2 linked regions of the Homo sapiens genome follow. The protein of the gene in region 1 interacts with the protein of each later gene in a pairwise test. Each region holds a gene or a part of one and is shown in the gene's direction. Other genes may lie near its edges. The genes, in order: PIN4 and FRMD1.

The links.
Region 2: the proteins of PIN4 (region 1) and FRMD1 interact in a two-hybrid assay, tested with the Homo sapiens proteins (one large-scale study listed by BioGRID and IntAct).

Annotation. Positions count from the first base shown.
Region 1 is NC_000023.11:72,180,245-72,184,607, forward strand, and holds the start of PIN4 (peptidyl-prolyl cis-trans isomerase NIMA-interacting 4), read left to right. Parts: upstream 1-1,541; coding exon 1,542-1,584; intron 1,585-4,363.
Region 2 is NC_000006.12:168,058,633-168,062,439, reverse strand, and holds part of FRMD1 (FERM domain-containing protein 1), read left to right. Parts: intron 1-458; coding exon 459-633; intron 634-1,382; coding exon 1,383-1,679; intron 1,680-3,251; coding exon 3,252-3,316; intron 3,317-3,807.

The DNA of each region.
Region 1 (4,363 bases):
AAAACAAGGAGTGCCCAAAATGTGTCCAGAATTTAAAGCAGCCAAACATAAGAGGGCTCCATGTTATGTCTTGAGTAGGGAATGAGCACAGTCTCAGAAACACCTGATTCCCTGGTATGAGCATGAAGCATCTCCAGGTCCAGCAAGGCTGCATCCAAAAACTAAACTCTGAGCTGGAAGACCTCTATATTCTGGCTGGTAGTGGCAAGCTAGGACAGCTCTCTCATGGACTGGAGGAAACGCCCTGACATATCATATACAAATTATTGATGGTGGGAGGGATTGTAAGGGGAGAAAAAGTGTGTGGGCACAAATTCAAAAATCATTTATCTTAGGCAAACATTATTAATATGAGCAAGCCATCATTTTATGTGCTTTACAGATATGAACTTGTTTAATTCTCTTAACACCTGATAGGATAATAGTAGGTACTATTATCATCAACTCCATTTCACAGATGATGAAACTGAGCCAAAGAGAGGTGAAGTAACTTCCTCAAGGTCATGGAGCTAGTAGACAGATGTGGAGCAGGGATTTGAAACTGGGCAATCTGGCTCCAGAATCCATGCTTTTACTACACTATGCTGCACCATTATGGAAATTTTGGAAAATACACAGAAACAAACACGATGACCTGTATGCACTAGCACCACTGGCCACATCTTGCTCTATAGCTTTCCTCTCCTTTATATTCATATAACATACAATACATTACATATACTTCTTTTACAAGGAATCATATTCTTTATCTTGGTCTTAAAAACATTTCCCCTATCTGTACACACAGCCTTACAATCGTTATTTTGAATGTTGTATAATATCTTCTTGTGTGGCTAAAACATTATTTAAGCAGTACCCGACTGAGGAGCACTCAGACTGCTTCCAATGTTTCTCCATGACTGAGCTCTGCAAGACGCAAAAAGGTGACAGGCTTTTTTAAAAACTACCTTTTGAACCTAATTAGCTACAACTGCAGAATAAAATTAACAAACGAAAAACTGCCAGGGAGGGCAGCCCTGTGTGTAGGAGGAGACAGCGGAAGTTGGCCGCCACCACAGTACTCCTGCTTCCCTTTGTCTGGCGGCCCCGCGGGATTGGCCAGAGCTGGCGCCGAGGGACTGCAGAGCCACCCACCCCCGTGGCTCCTACTGCGCACGCGTGAAAAAAGCCAGGTTGAGGGGAACGGGGGAGCTTCGGGCGTAGAGTGTGGGGAGTGGGGGATCTGGTGCAAATTAGGGTGCGTGAAAGAAGTCACAAAAAGCGCAGAGGCCAGGCTTCCCGCCCTAATCCGGCCTTTGTCTCCGCCCCTCTGCCTTTGTTTCGGCCCAAGCGTCTTATTGGTCAGACATCTTCAGCCCCATTGGTCCAAGAGCCAAAGGACGGGGTCTGCCCCAAGCTGTGCCTGCTTCCGGAGCCGCAATAAGAACGGTCAATTGAGATGCGGCTTTCAGGCATTTGTTTAGGACATGCCCATGGCGGGGCTTCTAAAGGGGCTTGTACGGCAACTGGAGCGGTTCAGCGTTCAACAACAAGCTTCCAAGATGCCGCCCAAAGGAAAAAGTGGTTCTGGAAAAGCGGGGAAAGGTAGAGCGGCCAGAGCGATCAAGGAGAATGGGGGCGGGTGAGGAGCGAAGGGAGGGAACAGACAGTCCATCTCCGGAGTCCGGGACGGACGCAGCAGGTAGCCAGTGGCCCCACAGTGCTGCCATCGATTACATCTGTAGGAATACATTGGGCTACGGTTCAGGGACCGTCCTAGTGGGTAATGGAATCTGATGGGGATAGTTCCTCGGAGGCGATGACTTAGGGCTGCTATTTCAAGGGGTTATTAGAGCTCTAAAATTGGGTCTTATCAAAAGCCAGCAATAGGAAGTACACATTGGTTATGGTCCTTAAAGTTCACTTTAATGCTTACAGAATGACATGCCCACCATCGGGGAAGGAATCATTCATCCATTGAACAGAAATGTGTCAGGCAGAGTGCTAAGCGCTGAGGATACACAAATAAGACAGAAGGCTGGGCGCGGTGGCTCACGCCTATAATCCCAGCACTTTGGGAGGCCGAGGGAGGATGGATCACGAGGTCAGGAGTTCGAGACCAGCTTGGCCAACATGGCGAAACCCCGTCTCTACTAAAAATACAAAAATTCGCCAGGCGTGGTGGTGGTGCGCGCCCGTAATCCCAGCTACTCGGGAGGCTGAGGCAGGAGAATCGCTTGAACTCGGGAGGCAGAGGTTGCAATGAACCGAGATCGCGCCACTGCACTCCAGCCTGGGCGACAGAGCGAGCCTCTGTCTCAAAAAAAAAAAAGAGATTTTGGCCTTAAGGAGCTCCCGAAGTAGTGAGGAAGATAAAGGCTTAGTGATCATAAAGCACTGTACTAAATGTAGTGTTGAGGGATGTGTATGGGATATAATAGAAATTGAGGGAAGTCCTTCATTTAGCTGGGGAACAGGGAACGGAAGACTTCCTGGAGATGAATTAGGCAGGTCAAGATGTGCATTGAGGGTAGGTTAAAGCATTCCTTACTTGGGGTCCAGCAGCAAAAGCACTGAGGTGAGAAACAGCATGATGTGTGCAGCGTAGTGTTGCTGGAGCAAAAACTCAAGGCAGAATGGCAAGTGGTGAGAATGAAAACAGAAACAAAGACGAGATCATGGAGAGTGCTATATATTCTGCTAAGAAGGACAGTTAAGGATCAGAAAGACCTGTAAGGAGATTGTTGTGGTAGTCTTGGTGAGAGATGATGGTGGACTGACCTAAGGGAGTGGCTGTGGGAACTGAGAAAAGAGAAAAGATTCTGTAAATATTAGGATGTGAAATAGTCAAGACTTGGTGATTTATTGGGTTGGGGAGGGGTGGTGAGGGAGGATCAACGATCATTCTGTTTTCTGGATTGGATTTCTAACCTGTTGCTGGTCCTGCAGGGTAACATCAAGGATACATGAGGAGCGGGGATGAGATTGATGAATTCACTTTCAGATAGATTGGCTTTGAGGTGTCTGTGGGACATCTCAGTGGAGATGTAGTCAGGAAGTGGTTGGATATTTGAGTCTAAAGTTTGAGGGAGAGGTCTAGACTGTACATGTAAGTTTTAGGAGTCGCTAACTTATAGATGGTAGTTGAGCCCATTAGAGTGTATGCAATTATCCATGGAGAGTTTATAGAATGAAAAGAGCAGAGAGCAGAGGATGTGATCCTAGGACAGGCAGAGAAAGAGGCAGACAGATAGAGGGAGTGCAGAATGGTGGCCAGAGGCTGGAGAGACCAGAATGTTTTAAAGAGAGAGGGTATAGTCTATCAAGAACAGCAGATTTGGAAATTAGAGGTGGCCTTGGGTAAAAGTGGTTTCAGTGAAACAGAAGCCAGATTACCGTGACTAGAGAACTGACTGGGAAGTGGTAATTTGGACTTCTTGGAAAGTTTTAATTGAAAAGCATGGAAATGGGATGGTAGATAGAGAAGGACAGAGGATTAAGAGAAAGTTTTATTTTCTTTGCTTCTTTGGAATGGGGAAAACTTGGGAGTGAAGCTGAAGGATCCAGTAAAGTAAAAGAGGTAAAGGTACAGAAGAGTGAGATTTAGGAGAAAATGGAATCCAGGACCTAGGGGGAGCAGGGACACCTTATGCTTGAGGTCATAGGAAAGGAGATGGAGGGGCAGGGACTCAGTAGGCATCTTGAGGAGAGTGGTAAAGGTCTGGAATATCGTAATGGAAGAGGGAATGAAACACAAAAGAAGTGCCTTCAGGGCTAGGAGCCTGACTAAGATCAAAGGCCATGAATTTGTAGACTACATAATCTTCACAGTCTGATTTACCTAGTACTATGCAATTGGCACAATATAGGATTGAAAAGAGCTAGGTGCAGCCTTAAGCCATGGTTGAGGTTTTGTTAGGCAGTTATGATAGGAGGATAGCAACACCAGGGAATTACAAGGGCCAGTGGGAATGCAGTTCAGATGAAGGAACATGGGGTCCAGAGTGGGAAGGGAAAAAGAAGTCTGGTGGCCTAGGTGAATGTAGCAGGACGAAGGGACTGGGGTCAAGGGAGAGGTTCTGTGAAGTTAAAGAGCAAGTATTGTGGGAATGAGACATGAGGAAGCTGGAAGAACAGGAGGTTATAGCCAGAGACTGAACTAGTTCTGAGTGGCACAGTTCCATCGTGTGCCCCCGGGGCAGGTAGCTTGGAGTAGAGAGCATGACATTCGGGAAAGAGACCTAGAACTGAGATTCCCCAAGATAGATGGTGAGGTCACTCAAGGTAATGGCAGGAGTGAGGGTGGAGAGGAAGCCCAAAGCTGATGCCAGAGTCGTCAGGAAATCAAAGGCAGTGAGGTGGCAGTCAGAAGATGACAGCATCC
Region 2 (3,807 bases), on another chromosome or scaffold:
TTCTGGCTCCCAATTGAGAAAATCAAGGGAGAAAAGAAGAGCAGGTCATAGAAACGCACCTGTGTGGCCTCTGTTCCTCTCATCCCGGCCCCAGAGCTGTCACCCAGGGTCACCCCACAGCCCGGGTGCCGGGGATAAAAGGGCAGTGACTGTGGGGGCTGCTGGACAGCAGGCTTGCTCTGGACAGCCAGACCGAGGTCTTCCTGTCCCACCCCAGACCTCCACTCCCCTCACACTGCTGCGGGCACTTTCTAGCCAGGAGGGCTGTGTCCTCTCAAGCAAGGGCGGAGCAGAGCACAGTGTCCGCGCACAGTGTCCGCCAACAGCCATCTGCACTGCGAAGTGAAAACCTGGGCCTCGTCCCCCTGGGGGCCATGGCTGACATTTAAAATCATCCTTTCCTGTGGCTAGCGTGGTTTTCCACCTGTGGAGTGGCAACTTCTCTCCTGTTTGCTCAGGGAAAGAAGCTGGAGATCCAGCTGGATGGGCTGCCCGCAGCACAGAAGCTGGTTTACTACACGGGGTGCACCTGGCGGTCCAGGCACCTGCTGCACCTGCTGCGCGCCAGCCACCAGCTCCACCTCCGCGTGCGGCCCACTCTGCAACAGCTGCGGCAGCGGGAGGAGGCAGAAGGTGGGGCTGGGCTGGGTATGCTGGGCTCCGCAGCCGGACTGTGCCTTCTGGGCTAGGCTGGGCACACTGGGCTCTGGCCGGACTATGCCTTCTGTCTCTTATTGTTGTGGCCTCCTGACTCCCACGTCCCCCAGATGCTGAGGTCGAAGGGCGAAGTGGTGGCCCCCAGCTCTGCCTGGAGTGGAATTCTATAGATGGGACTGGGGGAAGCTGGGAGCTTGAGGAGCCACCTGAGGTTTCCACTTCTCAGTTTCCTGGTCTGTTTTCCACTTCTCCTCCCATCATGTGCCCACAAAGAGCAAGAAATGCAGGTTCCGACAAGGCCTCAGTGTTTACCCACAGGCCTGGTCTCCCTTCCTGTTCCACATCCTCACCTGAGCACAAGGCCTGGCCTTAGTGTTTACCCACAGGCCTGGCCTCCCTCCCTGTTCCACATCCTCACCTGAGCACAAGACCTGGCCTCAGCGTTTACCCACAGGCCTGGTCTCCCTCCCTGTTCCACGTCCTCACCTTGAGCACAAGGCCTCGCCTCAGCGTTTACCACAGGCCTGGTCTCCCTGCCTGTTCCACGTCCTCACCTGAGCACAAGGCCTGGCCTCAGCGTTTACCCGCAGGCCTGGTCTCCCTGCCTGTTCCACGTCCTCATCTGGGCTGTGGGTGTGCATTTCTGTCTCCCGGGCTCTTCCTCCTGCATCAGCAGGGCTGGTCCCTCTCCAGCTCGCCCTCACTGTGCTCCCCACTCCCCACAGAGAAGCAGCACTACCGGGAGTCCTATATCAGCGATGAGCTGGAGCTGGACCTGGCCAGCAGGAGCTTCCCGGGCAGTGGGGTCAGCAGCCAGCACTGCCCCCACTGCCTCTCACGCCACTCCGCCGACAGCCACGGCAGTTCCTACACGTCAGGCATCAAGGCCAACTCCTGGCTCAGGGAATCCAGAGAGATGTCTGTGGACGTGCCCTTGGAGGTCCACGGGCTCCATGAGAAGGAGCCGTCCTCCAGCCCCAGGACCAGCCGCAGCCACCCCAGCACACGTGGTGACAGCCAAGGTGGGCCCGAGGGAGATGCCCAGGCCTCAGGGACAGTGAGTGTGGTCCAGCCAGCCCCAGCTTGGCTGACCCTGGACACCGAGGCAGCAAAGCCCTGGCCTGCCCTCCAGTGGCCAGACGTGAGGGGCTGGGCTGCTTGTGACCTGAGTCCCAGGAAATGTGCCAGAACATGCCGGAAGAACAGAGATGGCAGGGAGGAGCTGCCTGCAGCCTGCTGTGCCCGAGTCTCCTGTTCCTGCCAAGGGGCAGCTGCAGGCTGGGATCAGAGACAGGAGAGGTGGGATCCTCTTGGGGTTGCAGATGAGTCCAGGTCCTTTAGCTTTCTCGGAAGCCCATCTCAGGAGCCCCTCCCACTCCTAGGAAGCCCCTGGCCCCTAGGAAGCACCCCCCCAACTCCTAGGAAGAACCCCCCTCCCAAGGAATGCTCCCCATCCCGGGAAGCCCCCCAACAAAACTCCTAGGAAGCTCCCCTTCCAGGGAGCCCCTCCCTCTCCCAGGAATCCCATCCCCACACATAGGAAGACCCCCACTCCTAGGAAACCCCCCACTCCTAGGAAGCCCCCCACTTCCAGGAAGCCCCCCATTCCTAAGAAGTCCCCTCACTCCTAGGAAGCCCCCTGGACTCCTAGAGACCCCCCCAACTCTTAGGAAGCCCCCCCCACACTCCTAAGAAGCCCCGTGGACTCCTAGGAACTCCCCCAACTCTTTGGAAGCCTTCTGACTCCTAGGAAGCCCCCCACTCCTAGGAAGCCCCCTACTCCTAGGAAGCCCTGTCCTACCAGCTTCCCTCCCATCAGAAAGCCTGGGTTAGACTCATGTCTTTTTATACTCAGTTGAGTAGGAGTGAGAAGACAGAGCCATTCAGAGTGTTCTAGGACCATGTGTCCACCTGGCCCAGGACGCAGCACCTTGTCCTGAGGGATGCACCCTGCCCATTCCCTGTGTGTAGGACTGTGTGTGCACCTGGCCCAGGATGCAGCACCCTGTCCTGAGGGATGCGTCCAGCCCAGTCCCTGTGTATGAGGCCCTGAAGAGCTTCCTCATTGCCCCAGAAAGGGGACGTGAGCTCTGCTGGTCTCTGAGTGTCCCCACGGCCCTGACGGTGGATGTGATGAGATCAGGTGGGACCAGCCCCAGGGCTCAGTCACCCAGGACCGCCCAGCATCACCTACAGTCACCCAGGGCCATCCAGGGTCACAAAACATCACCTAGGGCCTCCCAGGGCCAGGCATTCCTGTCACTAAGCCACTGTGTCCGCCATTGCCCTTGGAGTGTCTGGTCCACCAGGAAGGGATGGTTGGCCTCCATCTCTGAGGATGTATGCAAGCTCTGTGGCCTGTAACCCAGCGGGAATCACCGTGCTAATCCCGCATCTGCACAGCAAGGGGCCGTTTTATCAGATGTCGGGGAATGGAGCAAAAGCAGTCACCGCACTGAGAGCAAGGGGGCGGTGTGAGCCTCAGGAGATGCCGGTCCGAGACCAGGGCCCCAGAAGTGCAGGGAACTGCCCTGGGGAGGAGCCATGTCGGGCAGAACCCAGACACCTGTGCTCACGGCTGCCTCCTCCCACAGCCACTCGTCAGGAGCCCTGCACCCAGGTCAGGACCAGAGGCCAGAGCGCCGAGGCCGTGCACCAGGTAGAGTCCCCCCCACGGGCCAGAAGCCCTGGCCCTGCTCCTCCACCCCCTTCTCCTAGGTCCCCTGTCAGGGGCCCTGGGGACCTTCCTAGGCCTATCAGAGGGTCCCTCGACTGACATCCCCAGAGACGCAGCGGGCAAGTCAGGGAGCAGCAAGGCTCTCGGGCACTGGGGCAGGTGGACGTGGGTGGAGGCCTCAGCCTCAGGGCCGAGTGAGTCGGCTCACTGTGGGGAGGGAGGGGTCCTGCCTGGGGCTGGGGTGGCCGGGCCCTGAGTGTCACCGGGCCACTGTAGGCAGGACCCGGACACCTGGGCCCTGCAACCTGCCATGCAGCAGACTGGCTGCCCCGTCCCCTTCGTCCACCTCCTCCACCCGGGGCCTAGTGCTGTGTGTGCAGGGCTGCTCCAGGCTTCCCCCACTTCCTGTAGAGCTACTGAGCCTTAGGATCCCCCAGAGGAGCTAGAGGAGAAGCGAGCCAGTGGTTCCTGGA